2 linked regions of the Homo sapiens genome follow. The protein of the gene in region 1 interacts with the protein of each later gene in a biochemical or structural test. Each region holds a gene or a part of one and is shown on either strand. Other genes may lie near its edges. The genes, in order: OTUD4 and PFKFB3.

Region 1 (10,234 bases):
CCTGTGGGGTTTTTATGATGTTTCTGTTTTCTTTTCCCTCACCTTTTTTGAATGCTAAATAACTTTTAAAATTTCTATTTGTGAGTAAATGTTTTACTTAACATGTGGAGGCCAGTCTGTTCTCATTTTTAAACATTGAAAGGCAAGCCATTTATTTACCATAGGTAGCGTAAAATCTTTCTTTAAAACAAGAAATTGATTTAACGGACACAAACCGTTGCTTTATGTTGCGGACATTGTCATTGAAAAATTCTTCCAAAAGCTCCCCAAACCAGGCTCTGTCCGTTTCTCATTTTCAGTGTTGCTGTGGGGTATGTTCACAGCCACCCACTGCCTCCGGTCCTTATTGTTAGTAGGTAAATAGTCTGCCCCATTTGTGAATTTTCTGAATCTCTGTCTGTCCTGCTTCCTTGGACTCCTCAGCACCTCCAGAAGCCTAGGGAAGAGGTGGAAGTGAATTCAGCCCGTATTTATAACGTACTGTTAGACCTAGCAAGAGTTTGGTAAGCAAGGAGGTAGAAATAAATGGCGGTAAGGGAAGCTTGGCGCTTACTTGGATTTGAGTTATCTTGAGTCCTAGTTTATATTGAAGCAGAAGGGTGTGCCTGATTTCCGTAGTGCATACCATAGATACTCGGTGGCCTTGATTATACAGAAGCCTCTTTTATTATAGTGGGATCTCTGTTTTTAAGTAGAAAAGGGGCAAGAGCTAGTTTACACTAAGAACTCTTTGTTACATCAGGTAACACATTTTATTGTATTTTGTAATGGGGTTTAGGTTAGGCATAAGGGACTACCCTTCCCAGTTATGTGACTCAGTTTTAGTCTGATGAGCTTAGCTGAAGACCTTGAACTTTGGGGGAAGTTCAGTTATTCAGTAGGCTACAGTTATAGCCATCATCGCCAAAGGCAAAGTGTGTGTGTGTGGGAAAAAGGAAGTAATACCAGCGTCAGGCTTCCCTTTTAAAATGTGTACCAATAATTTATATTTTTTGCCAACAATTTCTCCTATAAAATCACAAATACTCATCATTTCTAAGAAGGAATCAAAGTAAATAATCTAAGTGGCAGTTTTTAAAGACGGGGAGGAGACTCGAGTTAGGATTTTGGTCTTTCTCTCCAAATTATCTGATTTAGATAGGCCATTTCCTTTTTACACTTACGGATTTGGGCCTGCCGGAGGCCTGACCTGAATCAGCTCCACAGCCATGGAGCTAAAAATAGGGCAGTCTTGGAGGACTTGCTAAAACAGTGTCTCAGCCTTTCCCAGTATTTATCACTATCTTGTCCCAAGTAAAAATGGGAAAGCCTTCTAGTTTGCTTTCATGTATATATTAATTTGCAGAGATATTTGTCATACTACTTTAATTCTTTCGAAGTGTTATCAACCTTGCACAATAATTTACATTTTAGACAGTTGTCATTTAACCTTGCTTTTCTTGCAGTGCTTGACTTTGTGAATTACCAGCACTCTCACACTTTATAGAAGTTGCTAAGAGTTTTGCTTCTGAGCAACAGGTTCAGATAGATTGTATGTGCCAAAATCTTTGTTAAAAGAGAAGAACCAGTAGATATGCCTACCATTGCTTTTGATTGAAAATAAGCTTTACTAACTTATGTTTGCCACCTGTTGCTAGGTAAATGGCTTTAAGACTAGCTCCACGTTGCTAATGGCAGAGGAAAGCCCTATCAGATGACACTGTGGTTTATTCATACGAGTAATACCTTGATTCATGATAGTGTCTAACATAGCTTCTGTGAAAGAAGTGTTGCTAAATGTCATTTGTTGAATTGGCAAAAAAATTCTACGGTGGTTATTTTTATATATAGATAGTCCTTTTTGGTCACATACTCTTAGAATATATAAGAATATAGTTTAATAGTGTCCAAGAACAGCAGTGAAGGTAGAATCAGTTAAACTGAAAACCAGTTATTACACTGAAAACAAACTAATTGCTAACCTCAACAGGTGCATTTTCAGTGTATCTCAGCGTAATAGGACATACTAGGCGTCCAGGCAGTTGTGCCGGTTCTGTGGGTATAAATGAGCCTTGGTTGTGATCCAAGAGAGCTGTAGAATGCACAGCTGGAGCCTCCCTTTTCCCAAATGCTCTACTCATGCTAAACGTAAAGGGAGAACCACTCAATTGGATCTGTAACTTTTTTTTTTTGAGACAGAGTCTTACTCTGTCACTCAGGCTGGAGTGCCCTGGCACGATCTCGGCTCACTGCAACCTCTGCCTCCTGGTTTCAAGCCATTCTCCTGCCTCAGCCTCCCAGGTAGCTGGGACTACAGGCACGCACCACCACACCTGGCTAATTTTTTTTTTTTTTTTGTATTTTTTAGTAGAGATGGGGTTTTCACCATGTTGACCAGGCTAGTCTCAAACTCCTGACCTCAGGGGACCCACCCTCCTCGGCCTCCCAAAGTGCTGGGATTACAGGCGTGAGCCACAGTGCCCGGCCAGGATCTGTAACTTTTAAAGATACTTTCTATTAATATAAATTCTCAAGAGGCCTTGATGGTAGTTTGAAATGTGTTACTTTAAGTGTGTCTGAGTTTTTTTTTTTTAAACCATAACCCTTTACGGTACAGGAATATCTTTATTTGAGATACCCAGTAATAGAAAAGAATTTTAATCTCCTTTAAGCATGTTAAATAATTGGGAGCTAGGGCCGGGCGTGGTGGCTCATGTCTGTAATCCCAGCACTTTGAGAGGCCCAGGCGGGCAGATCACCTGAGGTCAGGAGTTTGAGACCACCCTGCCCAACATGGTGAAACCCTGTCTCTACTAAAAATAGAAAAATGAGCCGGAAAAAAAAAAAAGAAAGAAAGAAAAATTAGCCGGACATGGCAGCTCCTGTAATCCGGCTACTCGGGAGGCTGAGGCAGGAGAATCGCTTGAACTTGTGAGGCGGAGGTTGCGGTGAGCTGAGATTGCACCACTGCACTCCAGCCTGGTGGGGGAAAAAAGAATTGGGAGCTAGCTAGAAGGAAGCATTGGATAAGAAATAGTTGTTTCAGGCTGGGCACAGTGGCTCATGCCTGTTGTAATCCCAGCACATTGGGAGGTCGAGGTGGGCGGATCACGAGGTCAGGAGTTTGAGACCAGCCTGGCCAAGATGGTGAAACCCTGTCTCTACTAAAAATACAAAAATTAGCCAAGCGCCGTGGTAGTTGGCTGTAATCCCAGCTACTCAGGAGGCTGAGGCAGGAAGATCGCTTGAACCTGGGAGGTGAAGGTTGCAGAGAGCCAAGCTTGCGCCACTGCACTCTAGCCTGGGTGACAGAGCAGGACTCCGTCTCAAAAAAAAAAAAAGAAATAGTTGTTTCAATTCACAGCTTTAGAATTTTGGTAAAAGACCACATGCCAGTAAGTTATCTTTTTGTTGAACTGGTTGTTTAATAGAAGAAAATGTAAACTGCAGAGTGAGAGGATCTGGATCATACTTTGTAGGTTGGTACTTTACAATTTAGGGCATAAAAACAAACCCCAAACCTCTTGGGATGATACCACACAACATTTTTGCACCCCCTATGCTGCCTACTTGGATGTTCTTTCTTGTCTTATAAGCTTGATCACCAAGGAAAGAATGAGTGCCTTAATTTTTCTGAAACCATAGTGGACTTAAATTTTTACACAGAGCCTCTAAGTGGATTCAGAATTAATGGGAAAAATAAATCGGCCTCTTACAGGCTGAAAGCCTCAAAATACATTCCTACAGAAGTTGCCAGTTTGTCTTTTTCAATATGTATAGGATGAAGTTGAGCGTGGCGTAGCATGGATTTTGTTAGCTCTTCTTTGTGAAGAGTAAAGTTATTGTGGAGGGAAGGCCAAGGGAAGAGAGTGTCCTAAATTTACAAAAATGTCCTAAAGGAGAAAGGCTAATAAATTCTTTACAAATTTGGCTTAAGAAGTAGTATTGTTTGTATATGTCATGTCTTCGCTGTGCTTAGTTAGAAGAAGAGGTAGGAATGAGTAAAGATATCGAAATTATAGAAAGGGAAATGGAGAAAGACTGATAATCTATTGGTTGTCAGATTATTTTGGGTGTAAAAGAAGACATTAGGTTGTAACTTTTAACTAAATGCTTAATAGTGTGTTTGTTGCCTTTTCTTTTTAGGTATTGCACTCTCAGTCTCGCCATGTTGAAGTCAGAATGGCCTGTATTCACTATCTTCGAGAGAACAGAGAGAAATTTGAAGCGGTAACTTGTAATTTCAAACATGTAATGGTGTCTTGACTTGGTTTTACATTTTGGCTTTTAGAAGTGTTCTAGTAGAATTTCACAGGCTGGATCTTAATGCGGGTTATGAAAATAACACTTATTAAAAAAACTTCTCTATTGAACTTAATCTAGTTATATTCAGTTATGTTGTTTTCTAGGCTATTTTATGTTTTGCATTTATTTGGACATTTAGAAAGCTACTATGATGGATAAGACGCTGAGCTGTGGGGGATGGAAAGATGACCTGGACAAGGCCCTTGCATACTAAGAGTGGGCTTTGTCTGACATGGTCAGGGAATTGGGGGTGTTGTGATTAATAGTGGTTTCTGTGATGGGTAACTCCCTATAAATTAAAAGAAAAAAAATTCAGTCTGGGCATGGTGGCTCACACCTGTAATCCCAGTACTTTGGGAGGTGAAGAGTTCAAGACCAGCTTGGCCAACATGGCAAAACTCTGTGTCTACTAAAAGTAGTGGCATGGTGGCACATGCCTGAGTCCCAGCTACTCTTGAGTCTGAGGCACGAGGATTGCTCGAACCCAGGAGGCAGAGGTTGCAGTGAGCCGAGTTGCGCCGCTGCACCACAGCCTGGGTGACAGAGTGAGACTCTGTCTCAAAAAAAAAAAAAAAAAAATTCAGACTTGCAGTGTAAAAAATACGCTGAGTGTAAGTAATGCTGAACCCTTAATTTTATCAGAAGGCATTCATAGGTTTTTAATTTTCAGGGTTCAGTGTGAACTCACATGTCAGAACATTATAATTATGTAAGTAGTGATTAATAGTTAATAAAATGTTGTATAACAGCTTAATATAATTTTCTCAGTAGTATGTGAAATAAGATGCCACAGTGACCTGTTTTCATTTTACATTCAAAGTCTTACAGGATTTATTACTTACTGGTTTTAAGACCTAGAATTATGTAATCTGACAACTTTGGGTGTTATTTCCCCCAGTTGACTGGTAGAGAATGTTGATATAATACTTTGCAAATGATAGGCTTGAAACCTTGTTTTATTAAAAAAACCTGGTAACGCAGAGGCTAGATAAGAGAGTGCAGAGGTGTGGTAGAGAAGGGAAGTGGGGAGGTGGAATGGTCTTTAAATTAATTCTTATTAATCATTGGCCCCAGAGGGTAAAACTGTGTTGATAATAATGGACATTGCTAACATTGGTTGAGGTGCTTACTATATGCCAGGCATTAAGTGTTTTGCATATATTTTTTTTAGTCCATATAATTTTTTTTTTTTGAGACAGAGTCTCGCTCTGTCGCCCAGGCTGGAGTGCAGTGGCGCCATCTTGGCTCACTGCAAGCTCCGCCTCCCGGGTTCATGCCATTCTCCTGCCTCAGCCTCCAGTGTAGCTGGGTCTACAGGTGCCTGGCACCATCACGCCAGGCTAATTTTTTGTATTTTTAGTAGAGATGGGGTTTCACCATGTTAGCTAGGATGGTCTCGATCTCCTGACCTCATGCTCTGCCTGCCCCGGCCTCCCAAAGTGCTGGGATTACAGGCGTGAGCCACCGTGCCTGGCCTTAGTCCATATAATTTTATGAGGTATGATCAGAGGTTGAAAGTTCCATGGGGAAAAGTTTCACTTTCCTTTTATGAACCTTCAAGCAGTTTCAGTTGTCCAGAATTGGAAAGAGATGTTGTAGAAAGTATTATGCCTTGTTACTGACATTGTTCAGCCATGGCATAGGTGGACGCTTTCTGCTCAGAAAGGAGACTCTCAGAGAGGATGCAGGCTTGTGTCAGAATTCTGCAGTCTCTAGTAACTTTAAATGGTTCTGTGTTTTTTTTTTCCTTAGACCTATAATCATCTAATACAGAACAGTAGCCCTTTATTGGTGGGCTCTTTAATATATATGGCTCTTTTATTATAAATATCTTTCGAAATTTAAGATATTTTTGGCAATTTGACATTATATAATCTATGAAAGAATCTCAATCTTAAAATCCAAGGGTGCTTAAAAGATTTTATAGACAAGGGAGTATACTTTAATGTCTTTAAGTATATCTCTGCTAAATCAACTGGGACTGTAATTTAAACGCAATTGAATTTGGTGGTTCAACAAATGACTTTTAGAGATTTCTCAAATGAGTGCGATTGCTATTAAAGAAACATAAAAAAGGTTGTGTTATTACACAGCTTGAATAAACTGTTTTTATGTCAAAGTAACAATGAAGCGATGAAGCAAGCTGTATTAGAAAAATTTTGTTGATGCTTCAAAATATTTTTCGCCTTACTAGTTCTCATCGCTCTTTCTAGTATCACTTGAGAGACAATGAGTACTCTTATCTGTATTATTAAGCTATACTATTTCTTAGCTTGTAAGTCAGTCTTTGTTTTATTCCCTTCTACACACTGGTCACTACCAAGTTAAAGCACTGCTTTCATCATATAATTTCTCAGTTCAGAATGTCACCTGAAGTGGCCTTGAATGGCCTTTCTCATCTAGCCTTCAAGTCCTGCCTGGGCTCAAGGCCCTCTGTAAACAGGCCCCCCTTTGGGTTCTTCTCCCACTCAGTTCCACAACAGGTTGTCCTGCTCCAGCTGGCCAGATTGCTTGTCTTCCCAACACAGTGTTCCTCTTCCTCCTCACGCCACATTGGCCCTCTCTGTAGAGTATCAGCTGCCTGTTGCCATCCAGATCCTGTCCAGCATTCATCTTGAGTCACTCTTCTTTCAGGAAACCTTTCCTGACAGAATTTCCTTCTTTAAATTCTTTTGTATGTTTATAGTCTTTAATGATTGCTATATGTTTTCATAATTAGATTATGTACATATTTTTAAATAATACTGAGGTATTTTAGGTTTATGTACAAACTCAGTAATTCACAGTGAATGTTTACACAGCGAAGCGGTTAACTGTTTTGGCATATATGTTAGATGACATTTCTAATAGATTTATTTTTTGCAGTTTATAGAAGGATCATTTGAAGAATATTTAAAGCGTTTGGAAAATCCACAGGTATGTCACAGTCTTCTAGTATATTTCTATTTTTATATATCCAAATAATGTATTTAAAATTCATTAAAATAGAAGATTACTATTACAGTGTATAGAGGAGTTGCAGTGACGGTGTATCCTATTTCCTTATAAACGTTTCCTACACATTTTATGCAGCACTTAAGTTGGAGCTATATGTTAGAGGTTGCCTCACTAAGGCAGAGTTGTGATATTTTATCTTGGCTATAATGGCATGTAAATGTAGTATAAAAATCTGAAATAATACTGGGGTGATGATTTTCAGAATGCTACGTTGGTGTGTGTATGGAACTTGGACAGGGTGAAGTTTGATTTCTTTTTTTTTTTTTTTGAGGTGGAATTTAACTCCATTGCCAGGCTGGAGTGCATGGCATGATCTCGGCTCACTGCAGCCTCCGCCTCCCGAGTTCAAGCGATTTGTCTCCCGAGTATCTGGGACTACAGGCGTGCACCACCATGTCCAGCTAATTTTTTTATTTTTAGTAGAGATGGGGTTTCACCATATTGGCCAGGATGGTCTCGATCTCTCGACCTCGTGATCCGCCTGCCTCAGCCTCCCAAAGTGCTGGGATTACAGGTGTGAGCCACCACACCTGGCCTGCAGAGTTTTTCTTCCTAGGCAACTGAGAAGGCAGAGTTCTTTCATGCAGGTTCCTATTTCCATGATCATCTCGTGAAGAGGGAAGAGACTGTTGAGACAGAAAAGGATAGCACTTACTCACCAACTCCTGCTGCTATACTTTTTCAGTCATGTTTATGTTAAAAGGATTTTTCTTAATTTTTCTGTTTACAAAACTAACGTTCTCACTGTAAAAATCCAAGTATCTTGGAATGCCATTTAGAATGTTAAGGTAAAAATAACATTGGCAAAGAAAAAAGCTAAGAAGAGTTAAGGAGTAAAGGGAATGTAATGTAGGAACCAAGGGTGTTTGATCGATGACTGATGTATCCATTTGGTTGCCTAACACTAATTTGAGTGCTTGTTATGGGCCAAGAATTCCTAGTCACCCTGGGGATGCAGAGATAATGTAGATAACAAAAAAGTTTCCCTATCATAGGAAAGAAGGTCAATACAAGCTAGAAAAGGAGATTTGTCACAAGAGGTATATAGCTGTGATGCTGTAGGCATTCAAAGTGTTATTTCTAGCTGGGTAGACAAAGCAACACTTGGAGAGTGAGTTGTATTTGAAGTCTGAATGGATTCTAAATAGGAAATGCCTGGGCTGAAGGGCATTCCAGGCAGTGAAAACTGTGAGCAAAGCAGATTCAGAAAACAGTTCCAATTGTGTGGAGCATTGAGTATGTGAAGATAAGAAGTGGTGAGAAAGGAGTTGGAAGGCAGGTTGGGGCCAGACTGTGGGAGAGCCTTCAGTGTTAGGGTCAGTGGTTTGGAGCTTATGCTTTAGACCCGTGTTTCTCAAAGTGTGATCTGTAGGTTATCTGTATCAAAATCACTTGATGTGCATGTGAAAATGCAGATTCCCTGGCCCCTATTCCATACCTGAATCAGGGCCTCTGGGCCTGGGGCCTAGGCATCAGGCATTGGGAAACCATATAAGGTTTTTGGGGCAGGAAGTCAGAGTAGTGGTTATCCTATCTAAAATTGTAATTCTCAGCTTCCATCACTTTCCCTGTACCCCTCTCTGCTTTATTTTTCTCTGTAGTGCTTATATCATTTAATGTACTGTGTACTTTGTCATCTTCCTACTTGAATTAAGCTCCATGAACACAGAGTTCTGTATGCTTTATTCACTGCTGTGTTCCAGTTCTGAGGGATTTTGTTGACTGAAGGGTTGGATGGCATCTTCTGACAGTTGTTTCTTTTTTGTTACTAGCAACAAATATTTATAAATCTTCATTCTTATTTTTTTGCTTTCCTGGGCTGGGCACAATGGCTCGTGCCTGTAATCCCGGTACTATAGGAGGCAGAGGCGGGAGGATCACTTGAGGTCAGGAGTTCAAGATGGTGAAACCCTGTCTCTACCAAAAATACAAAAAAATTAGCCAGGCGTGGTGGTGTGCACCTGTAGTCCCAGCTATTCAGGAGGCCAAGGCAGGAGAATCGCTTGAACCTGGGATGCAGAGGTTGCAGTGAGCTGAGATTGTGCCGCTGCACTCCAGCCTGGGCAACAGGGTGAGACTCCATCTCAAAAAATAAATAAATATATTTTTTTGCCTTCCTAATATATGGCTGTATAAAATGGAAACAGAAACCATTTGGCAGATATTTGATGGATAAACTCAGTTGCTTCATCCAGTTCTCAGAGAAAGCATCTTTATCCTCTTAATGAGTAATAGTGGAGCATTTTGAAGGTACTTCAAACTTGTGCGAGAATATGTTTTTGTCAGCTTTGAGGTAAAATTGACATACAGTGAAATTCATCACTTATAAATATACAATTTGATGAGATTTGACAAGTGTATATGCTCATGTAACCACCACAGCAAACATCATAAAGGACATTTCCATCTCTCCAGAAAGTTTCCTTTTGCCTTTTTGCAGTTAATCCTCTTCCGCCTATCCCCTGGGACCTGGCAAGCACTGATTTGCTTTCTAAGTTTTGCTGTTTCTAGATGCATATAAGTGGAATGATAGAGTTTGTAGTCTTATGTATTTGGCTTCTTTCACTTAGCCTATTGGAAATACTAAAATTCATTCATGCGTTTAGCAGTAGTTCCTTTTTATTGAAGAAAAATAATCTGTGTATGTATCTATCACAACCTGTGTATACATTTACCAGCTGATTGATATTTAAGTTCTTTACAGTTCTGGGTTGTTAAAATTGAAGCTGCTGTGAACAATTGCTTATAAATCTTTGTGTAGACATGTGTTTTCTTTTTTCTTGGATTAATACCTTAGAGCAAAATTGCTTGGTCATCTGGTAAACATATTTTTAAGAAACTGCCAAACTTTTTGAAGTGACTGTACCATTTTGCTTTCTCATCAGCAATATTATGAGAATTTCAGTTTCTCCACATATTTGCCAGCACTCTTTGTGATTTAACTTGAATTTCT
Region 2 (10,234 bases), on another chromosome or scaffold:
GTATTTCTAGATATCTTTAGGAAATGAATTCCTGTTTCAGGAAGGGCTATTTGAATTGTGAAAAGTCAGTTTAGATTTGTCCAGTGGGAGCAGGAGGCTCAGAGTATGAGGGTTTGCCACCTTTCTTTGGCTGGGCACTCGTTGTTCCCCTTGGTAGACAGCAGGGTGCAGCTGTGAAGTCATTTTTCCCAGTGAGTGGTCACCAATGTGCTTAGCAAGGAGTTTAGCATTTGTCTGGTTGTCCACTAGCAGATAATCATTTGCCCCAACCCACCATGTTCAGAAATCTCTTTCTGATGAAATCTCAAAGCAGCTTGGTAGAGCCAGGCATTTGTGAACTTAGATTTTTTTTTTAAATTGTGGTAAAATATACATAATGTAAAATTTACCATCTTAATCATTTTTATTATTTATTTATTTATTTATTTATTTATTTATTTATTGAAACGGACTCTCCTTCTGTTGCCCAGGCTGGAATGCAGTGACACGGTCTTGGCTCACTGCAACCTCTGCCTCCCGGGTTCAAGCGATTCTCCTGCCTCAGCCTCCCGAATAGCTGGGATTACAGGTGTGCGCCACCACGCCCAGCTAATTTTTTTTGTATTTTTAGAGGAGACGGGGGTTTCACTGTGTTGGCCAGGCTGGTCTCAAACTCCTGACCTCAAGTGATCTGCTTGCCTTGGCCTCCCAAAGTGCTGGGATTACAGGCGTGAGCCACTGCATCCGGCCATTTTAGCTATTTTTTAAGTGTGCAGTACAGCAGCAAATTATATTCCCATTGTTGGGCAACCGCCACACTCTATCCGCAGGACTTTCTCATCTTCCCCGGCTGAAACTGTGCCAGGACACAGGCACAGCTCCCGACTGACTCGATCTTTGAAGAGTGGCTGCCTCTCAGTGACGGCAGTGGTTGATGAGAAAAAGAGCCCAGGCATTCAGAAATGCTGAGTTTCCCTAAAATCCACCTGGTTTCTGGGGCCTGTGCCACTGTGGGTGTTGGTAGACCTGTGTTGTTGCCTAGGAGAGCGAGCCCTGCAAAGGAGCCGGCACAGCCCTAGTTGGAGAAGCAGTTAACCACGGACTGGTCACACTGGGGCTGCCTCAGGCAGTGGGGGGTGGAGGAGAAACCACACAAGGCCAGAGGCATCTCTGGGAACTCCTGAGCATACCTTAGAACCAGCAGCCTCCTCCCGGCACGGGGAGCATTGCGGATCCTCACGTGGAGCTCGGTTGAGTTCAGCGCCAGGCTGTCTGGCGGTGACTCGGGCACGGGACAGATCCTGACTTGCTGGAGCATTCAGAGGTGTTCATTATGGAATCCCTGTGGGTTTCCTGTCTCTGTCCTTCCGGCTTCAGTTCTCCATCTCCCCAGGGAATCCTCCCCATGTAACATCAGGCTGTGACTCAGCCCCCAGCATCTTTCTCCCTTTCTCTTACACGCTGGGCCGGATAATCTTTATACTGAGCCTTCTGTGCGCTCCCCTTTTGAAAGCCCCAAATCCTGCTTAATCTCAGCAGAAAGCCTTCCAGCGTGATTTATCAGCCACCCCTTTGTGGTGTTGCAGGAAGTTAAAATCTCCAGCCCGGATTACAAAGACTGCAACTCGGCAGAAGCCATGGACGACTTCATGAAGAGGATCAGTTGCTATGAAGCCAGCTACCAGCCCCTCGACCCCGACAAATGCGACAGGTGATTCCCGTGGCTGGCCGTCTCTGCAAGACCCACATGAGGGTTCTTACTGAATTCTTGATGTTCCCACAAAGGATTTGCTCCTGGATACCTTTAAAAAAATTTTTTTAAGACAGTTTTTTTTGTAGAGATGAGGTCTCGCTATGTTGCCCGGGCTGGTCTTGAGCTCCTGGCCTCAGGTGATCCACATACAGCCGCTGGATACCTTTATCAACTCTCTTTGAAAATATCTTTTAAAAACAATCCTTGATGACAAATCATATTCAGTGGGAATATTTTGAACACTGTGTAGAAGTACAGGAAGTCAACATAGAGTTGAGCCTGATTTTGCTACTGTCCCTCCGATAGTTCCTTTCTTTTTTCTTTCCTTTCTTTCCATTTATTTATTTATTTATTTACTTACTTACTTGCTTGCCTGCTTGCTTAGAGACAGGGTCTCCCTTTGTCTCCCAGGCTAGAGTGCAGTGGCATGATCATAGCTCACTGCAGGTTCAAACTTCTGGGCTCAAGTAATCCTACCGCCTCAGCCTCATGAGTAACTGGGACTACAGGTGTGGGTGTCCACGCCCAGCTAATTTTTTTTTTCTTTAGTAGAGATGAGGTCTTGCTATGTTGCCCAGGCTGGTCTTGAACTTCTAGACTCAAGCAATCCTCTTGCCTCGGCCTCCCAAAGTGCTGGGATTACAGGCATGAGCCACTGCACAGGCCCCTTTCTTTTTTTCTCCATTTTCTTTCTTTTTTCTCCCCCTTTTCTGGGAGGCAGGCCAGCCTCACAGCCAGACACCAGCTGTGGGAGTTGTCTTACGCATATGCTCTGCCCCTTAGAAGGATTCAGTCTGTGCCCTGGAGGGGCCTACGGTCCCGCCTTGCTGTTCTCTGGGGATCACATCTTCGGAGACGGGCCAGGTGCATCCTGCTGTGGGTGGTGGCCTGAGCTGTGGTTCTCGGTGGGGTCTCTCTGCAGGGACTTGTCGCTGATCAAGGTGATTGACGTGGGCCGGAGGTTCCTGGTGAACCGGGTGCAGGACCACATCCAGAGCCGCATCGTGTACTACCTGATGAACATCCACGTGCAGCCGCGTACCATCTACCTGTGCCGGCACGGCGAGAACGAGCACAACCTCCAGGGCCGCATCGGGGGCGACTCAGGCCTGTCCAGCCGGGGCAAGAAGGTGCGGGGTGTGCTGCCGCATGGGCCGTTCTGGCTGTAGGGCGGTTGCAGGGTCTATAGGGTGGGTGGGGAGCTGTGTGCTGCTGCTGCTGCTGCTGCTGCTGCTTGGTGTGCTTGCTGTGTGTGTTATCTGTGTGTGCGCCTGCACGTCTCTATGCATATCTGTGTGCATCTCTGTATGGCTCTGTGTGTGTGTGTGTCTACGCCTATCCATGTGGCTTTGTGTGTGTGTGTCTTTGTGTTACTTTGTATGTGTTTGTATGTGTGTCTCTGGTGTGTGTATCTCTGTGCATGTGTGTGATGTGTGCGCGGTTGTGCACTAGGAAGGGAAGGGGCAGGAAGAGCTGAGCCTGGTCTCTGGGTAGGGTGTGTGCGGCTGTGGCTGTCCCAGTGGCCTGGGGCCCCCACGGTGTAACCAGGTAGTGCACAGCCCTACGTGGGCTGCCTGCTCCAGCCCTGGCTCTTGGAGGAGCTGCGGGCATCTGGAATCAGTGGTCCCCCTCCACCACCTCTCAGTTTGCCAGTGCTCTGAGCAAGTTCGTGGAGGAGCAGAACCTGAAGGACCTGCGCGTGTGGACCAGCCAGCTGAAGAGCACCATCCAGACGGCCGAGGCGCTGCGGCTGCCCTACGAGCAGTGGAAGGCGCTCAATGAGATCGACGCGGTGAGTCCTGGGAGGCGGGCAGGCAGCCTCACCCTCGGGCATGGGGCGGCTTCCCAAGAGGCCCTAGACACCCCTGTGGTTTGTTCCCCTGAGTGACCACTGGGTCCCCGCAGGGCGTCTGTGAGGAGCTGACCTACGAGGAGATCAGGGACACCTACCCTGAGGAGTATGCGCTGCGGGAGCAGGACAAGTACTATTACCGCTACCCCACCGGGGAGGTGAGCGCAGGCTGGGGCGGGCTGACGGTCCCCAGCACACATGACCACTGCTGTGCAGGGCTGGGCCACCCCTCCAGGGAGTTCACTTCCGTGTGGGTTCTGGGGGCTCCTACACCCTCCACCTTGGAACTGAGTCCCCCCAAACTGAACCTTCTAACAGCCTGGGGTGAAGTGCATTTTCCCATAAGCAGAAGTGAGATGTGTTTCCCTAGGGACATAGAACTATATGGGAGAGGAGGAAGGTGGTGTGTGAAGGTCCACTGGGCAGGGTGGTGGGCAGGCTGGCAGGAGGGGTGGCTCTATATCCCCTGGGCAGCGTCTGTGCTTCCCCGTGCACGGTGCCCGGGTGGCTGTGGCTGAGGACGCTGTTGCCTCCTCTGCCGATGGGATCCTCCTGGGCCTGGTGTGTCCTCCCTGCCCGTGCCCTGCTGAGCAGTGTCGTGCCTCAGGCCCCTGCAGGCCCACTGTCCTCTGGCCTCAGACTAAGCCTTACACACCGGGGCCCTGGTTAGCACAGCAGAGAGCCCACAGGAGCAGGAGCTTTTCTGGTCTTTTTCTAAAGTCACAGCCCTCCTGCTTCTTTTTACATTTTTAAATTGATAGAAAATACACATAACCTAAAATTGACCACTTTCATCACGTTAAAGTTATGATTTAGTGCATGTTAGTGTACTCACAGTGCTGTGCAGCCATCACCACAAATTCCAGGCCTTTCCCTCACTGCACAAAGAAACCCAGACCTGTTAGGAGCCGCTCCCGCCTGCCCGGCCCAGCCCCGGCACCGGCCCGTCTGCTTCCTGCATCTGGATCTGCCTATTCTGGGCATTCCATGTCAGTGGAGTCAGATGCCACACGTGCCTTTTGCGCCCAGTTCTTTCACACAGCATTGAGTTTTCCAGGTTCCCCCGTGTGGGAGCGGAGTGGGGAGGGCTTCACTCTTTTTGTGGCTGAGCAATAGTCCACGTTAAACCCTGCTCCTTCTCAACCACTGCTGATGATGGATGATTGATTTTGCGTGGCTCTCTGGCCGGTCTGATGCAGTCTGTGGCCAGCGGCAGAGCCCCTCCCGAGTGCCCTGAGCTCACGTGGGCCCGGCCCTCTGTGCTCAGTCCTACCAGGACCTGGTCCAGCGCTTGGAGCCAGTGATCATGGAGCTGGAGCGGCAGGAGAATGTGCTGGTCATCTGCCACCAGGCCGTCCTGCGCTGCCTGCTTGCCTACTTCCTGGATAAGAGTGCAGGTACCTCGGGCAGGTCGTGGCCCCGGGATGGAGGGAGGAGGGGACTGGCACTCGGCGGGGGGTCAGCCGCAGACCTGCCGTGGCCTGCCCTGTGTTGGCTGCTGTGCCATGGGGTGTTAGGAGAAGGGCACAGGTGTCGGCTCCCGGCTGCTTCAGGTCCTCTCTGTCCAGCGCTTCCTTGAAGCCCTTGGGAAATGCTGTGGAGCCCAGGTTGATGCCGGGGACTTCATTGCTTCATAAACAGCTCCCTGAGACCCGCCCCTGGCTCCACACATCCCAGGGTCTTGGCTTGGGGTGGGGGCTGCACTTCTCTTCAGTGCCCTCTAAGGAACAAACAGCCCGGAAAACTCTGACAATCCCATTGAAATGTTAAGTCTTAGCATGTCCAGTCCAGTGCAGCTGAATCCCTAGACAGACCTAAATTGTTTGGGAGTGACTTTTTCCCAACTCTAAGTCACCGTGAGGGCGAGTCTTTTGGTTTGGTTTGATGGCACTCTTTGGGCTAAAGTCTTCTTCTGGGGCCAGCTGCTGCCCGGGACAGCTTGTGGCTGGGGACAGATGCCCCTGCCCGACAGGGCTTCCGAGGGTCCTTGTTGGGGGGACCGTAAAGGTCTTTCCATGCCTCCCCCACCCTCATGTCTCATTTCTTTTTTTTGAGACAAAGTTTTGCTCTTCTTGCGCAGGCTGCAGTGCAATGCATGCACTCACTGCAACCTCCACCTCCCAGGTTCAAGCGATTCTCCTGCCTCAGCCTCCTGAGTAGCTGGGATTATACGCATGTGCTACCACACCCTGGCTAATTTTGTATTTTTAGTAGAGATGGGGTTTTGCCATGTTGGTCAGGCTGGTCTTGAACTCCTGACCTCAGGTGATCCACCTGCCTCGGCCTCCCAAAGTGCTGGGATTACAGGCGTGAGCCACCACGCCTGGCCGTGTCTCATTTCTAACTGTGGGTGTACAATTTCAATTTCAGAGGAGATGCCCTACCTGAAATGCCCTCTTCACACCGTCCTGAAACTGACGCCTGTCGCTTATGGTGAGTAGCAACCCCTGCCAAGCCCTGTCCCCCTGAAGGTGGCCACAGTAGCTTCTTGTGGCCGTGGGCTGTAAGCGGTGCTGTCCCTTTAACAGCAGCTTCCTCTGCCCCCATCCCACGCCCTCCAGGCTGCCGTGTGGAATCCATCTACCTGAACGTGGAGTCCGTCTGCACACACCGGGAGAGGTCAGAGGTGAGTGGAGGCCCCAAGCCTCATCCTGGCCATCATCACACGATAGCCCTAGTGGGTGATGGGCGCTCAGGAGGCCCCGGGGCCGCTTGCCTGCAGGTGCTGGCCTGTCTGGGGCCATGGGCCTGCTGGCTGCCTTCCTCAGCACCTCTTTGTTCCTGCCTGTCTGTTCTGTGGCTTCTGGGGCCTTCTCATTTTCTTTCTTCCTGTGTCCTCTTCCTCCCATTTCTGCTGAGCTCGAGATATGAATATTAGTGAGGAAGATACATTCTCTCTTTTTTTTTATTTGAGACAGGGTCTCAGTCTGTTCCCCAGGCTGGAGTGCGGTGGCGCAGTCACGGCTCACTGCAGCCTCAACCTCCTGGGTTCAAGTGATCCTCCCGCCTCAGCCTCCCGCGTAGCTGAGACTACAGGTGCGCACCACCATGCCCAGCTAATTTTAATTTATTCATTTTTTTAGATAATGGGGTCTCACTGTGTTGCCCAGGCTGGTCTTGAACTCCTGGGCTCAAGTGATCCTCCTGCCTTAGTCTCCCAAAGTGCTAGGATAAAGGTGTGAGCCGTTGTGCCCAGCGTCTCTTCTCTTTAACATCAGCATGGCACAGTTCTTGTTGCCTTTCCTTTCTGGCAGCTAAAACCAGTGCTTTCAGTTTCCAGAGTTACTGTTTCAAACAGGATCAGCAGGTCAGCGCCGCCATGTGCTTGTGATTAGGCTCAGAACCACCAAGAACACGGTGTTGAGAGACGGGAGGCGTGGAGAGCAGAGGCCTGGGGGGTGGCGGGTGGGGAGGCGCTTCAGGAGACCTCGAGGCCTGGCCGTGCAGCTGCTGTCTACCTTGGGGGGAGGCCTGACATTTGGAGGTGGGCCAGGCTGCCTCTGACTGAGTAGAGTGGGCCTCTGCTCAGGTGGACGCGTGTTGTGAAAGTGAGTTTGAATTCACCGTGTACAGGCTGCCAAAAGTACAACACTGTGCTAGTACTAGTCAGACCTTTCTCTTAGACCGAGCGTGACTTTCTGTCATGGCGTTCCCGAAACAGGTGACTGTCTAGTCCCAGGAAGCTTGGCCTTCGGATTTTGGCATGAAGGGATGAGGTGTCCGCCCCAGTCGCTGGCAGTTGCCTGGCTGGTGGGCTGACCTGAGAGAGGCTGGGGTCCCTTGGCCGCCTTGGTCCCTGTCACCCCCTCCACTTCGGAATGTGGGTCACCGGATGCTGTCCTGCCTTTAGCCATATGACAACAGCCCTGGTCAGGGAGCCACTGCCCCCGCTATGGGATTGGGCCTGAGCCGGTCCTGGAGCTCTTCCCTGCAGGGAATGGGGGCAGGGCCATGATGGAGACAGATCCCGGTTCTGAGGCTGGAGGCCCACACCCCATCACGCTGTCCCTCTCATGGGAGGGCTGTGTCTGGTCCTGGCCGCAGAACCTGCTTCCTGCTGCACATTTTCTGCGCCTTTGGTCTCCAGGCTTGTTTTGCAGCCTCCGTGCCCCATCCTAAGCCAGGGTGCCCTTTGTGTAGTAGAGATGGCTCTTCAGATCCTGCCTCGGGTCAGCGGAAGGGAGTCAGCACAGTTGCCTTCCCCTCCCCAGCCTGTGAGCCTCAGGCCCAGCCTCTCCCTCCTAGATGCCCCTCCTCAGCTCTCAAGAGAGGCTGGAAGCAAAGCTCTTTTCTCCGACCTCACGCTCTGCTGTGATCATCATTCTTTCCCTCCTTGCTTTGCAAGCACCGTGTTTGTCTGTGTGGGGAATCCTTTGGTACCATCCGAGGAAGGGGGCATGGGAGGGAATTGCCCCCATTCTTGCTGCCTGGCAGTCACCGCACACTCAGCAGCCCATGGTCCCTGGCCCGTGGTCCCGGCCACTCCCCTCGGTCAGTCTTTTTGCCTCTCTAAAATCCAGGAGCAGAGAAACTTTTTTGGGGCTAATTTTCCTCCCCTTCTTTGTAACTGTCGCCTTTCTCTCTTTTGTCTTTGTCTTGCTTAGGATGCAAAGAAGGGACCTAACCCGCTCATGAGACGCAATAGTGTCACCCCGCTAGCCAGCCCCGAACCCACCAAAAAGCCTCGCATCAACAGCTTTGAGGAGCATGTGGCCTCCACCTCGGCCGCCCTGCCCAGCTGCCTGCCCCCGGAGGTGCCCACGCAGCTGCCTGGACAAGTCAGTGCACTCCCCTTTCCTTCCTGCCTGGGGGACGCATGCCGGGCGTGATGCCACAGATCTGGGATTGCGTGCGTGTGTGTTTGCAAGAATACGTGCGTGGGTGCGTGTGGGTGCGCGTGCGTATGTTGTAGGTGTCTGTGCACGTGTGTTGTGGGGGCATGTGCACACACTCACGTGTTGAGGGAGAACATAGGAAGCACCCTCCGAAGTTAAGATCCTGGGGGCTTTCCTTGCTGGTGACAACCGTGACTGCGTTCGCCTCCTTTCTGAGGATGGGGTCTTTACAGGGCAGAAGCAGGCAGTGCAGAAGGAAGAGTGAGATGTCCAAGACCCGTTCACGTTCGTGAATGGTTATTTCTAAAACAAAGAAAGTGGCTACTTTCTCACATAAATAACATGGTTATCCCAGCAGGTAGTAAAAAACCTAACAAACAAGGCCAGGCGCGGTGGCTCACGCCTGTAATCCCAGCGCTTTGGGAGGCCGAGGTGGGCGGATCACCTGAGGACAAGAGTTCCAGACCAGCCTGGCCAACATGGCGAAACCCTGTCTTTACTAAAAATACAGAAATTAGCCAGGTGTGGAGGCGGGCGCCTGTAATCCCAGCTTCTCAGGAGGCTGAGGCAGGAGAATTGCTTGAACCCAGGAGGCGGAGGTTGCAGTGAGCCGAGATGGTGCCACTGCACTCCAGCCTGGGTGACAGAGGGAGACTCCGTCTCAAAAAAAAAAAGCAAAAAACCCCAACCCGATTTCACTTATTTCATTAATTTTGAAGGTTACAGGCCTGGAAGATTTTGGTTGTCAGACATTAAGATTTGTTTTCAGAAAACTGTTTGTTTTCAGAAAACTGGTCTTTTCCTTTACAGCCTGGAACCCTTGCAAATATGTGAGATGTAGGAATTTCTGTGCTTAAATTCAGGTACCACCCAAGGGTCTGCCCTACCTCCACCCTCCAGGCCTGCCCCCACAAATCAGCCCAGTGCAGCTTCCGGTCAGGTTTGTTGATGAGCCGGATGCTGGTGCTGGCTCTGAGCATCCTTTTCAGCCTGCCACCTCTTCCCGCCTTTTCCGAGACTTCCTTAGACCTCATGATGTCTGGAATGTGACCTGGGAGATGCTGCAGCCTCCACAGGTCACTTAACCTCTCCAGGCCTCAGTTTTTTCATCCAGGCAATGGGGGAATAATGGCAGTGCAGAAGTCAGATCAGATGAGGGGATTCATGCCCTGCATCAGGCCCAGTGTCGGGCATGTGGTGGGGACGCGTAGACACGGTGAGGTGGCTGTGATTAGCGGAAGCCTGGAGGCCTGGCTTTGGTGGTAGCTCCACACTAACATGAGTGCAGCAATTTAATTGCCCAGGTTCCTTCCCCTCCCAGGCCCTCAGTCTCCTTAGCTTTGCACATGATAGGAGCAGGACTGGGAGAGCTCTCATACATATTCCCTTGCAGGTCTCAGATCTGAGGGTTTTTATGAAAAGCCAGCAGAACTGAAATGGTGTCCCTGTGGCATCCGTTCTGATGGAAATGTGCAGTTGTATTTGGAAGTTCAGAGGCCGCTGCTTTGATGCTTGGGGGGACCAGGCTGGGGAAGGGGGTTGATATCCTGAGCTGCACAGACCTCCGTCGTGGAGGACGCAGTGGCAGGGGCTGCATCCTCCTGTCCGCTTCAGAGCTGCCCCTGGCGTTGGGAGGACAGTCCTTCAGGGTGGCCAGGTTCTTAGGGACGTCTGAAGCTGCTGGCTGGGCCGGCGTGGGGTTTTTCAGGGCTTCGTCCCTGCAGATTGCGCCCTGCCTCCTGACTGACTTCTCTCTCTGCTTCTCCTCCGCAGCCTTTGCTAGGGCAAGCCTGTCTGTAAGTATCTCTCCGATCA

Evidence for each region.
Region 2: the proteins of OTUD4 (region 1) and PFKFB3 form a complex in vitro, tested with the Homo sapiens proteins (one study listed by BioGRID).

What each region holds. Positions count from the first base shown.
Region 1 is NC_000004.12:145,168,636-145,178,869, reverse strand, and holds part of OTUD4 (OTU domain-containing protein 4), read left to right. Parts: intron 1-711; exon of another isoform or gene 712-742; intron 743-4,125; coding exon 4,126-4,209; coding exon of another isoform or gene 4,210-4,230; intron 4,231-7,149; coding exon 7,150-7,200; intron 7,201-10,234.
Region 2 is NC_000010.11:6,218,004-6,228,237, forward strand, and holds part of PFKFB3 (6-phosphofructo-2-kinase/fructose-2,6-bisphosphatase 3), read left to right. Parts: intron 1-545; exon of another isoform or gene 546-568; intron 569-1,515; exon of another isoform or gene 1,516-1,565; coding exon 1,566-1,690; intron 1,691-2,654; coding exon 2,655-2,862; intron 2,863-3,377; coding exon 3,378-3,524; intron 3,525-3,637; coding exon 3,638-3,742; intron 3,743-4,851; coding exon 4,852-4,981; intron 4,982-5,954; coding exon 5,955-6,017; intron 6,018-6,145; coding exon 6,146-6,210; intron 6,211-8,188; coding exon 8,189-8,362; intron 8,363-10,192; coding exon of another isoform or gene 10,193-10,215; intron 10,216-10,234. UniProt on the Homo sapiens protein: Catalyzes both the synthesis and degradation of fructose 2,6-bisphosphate.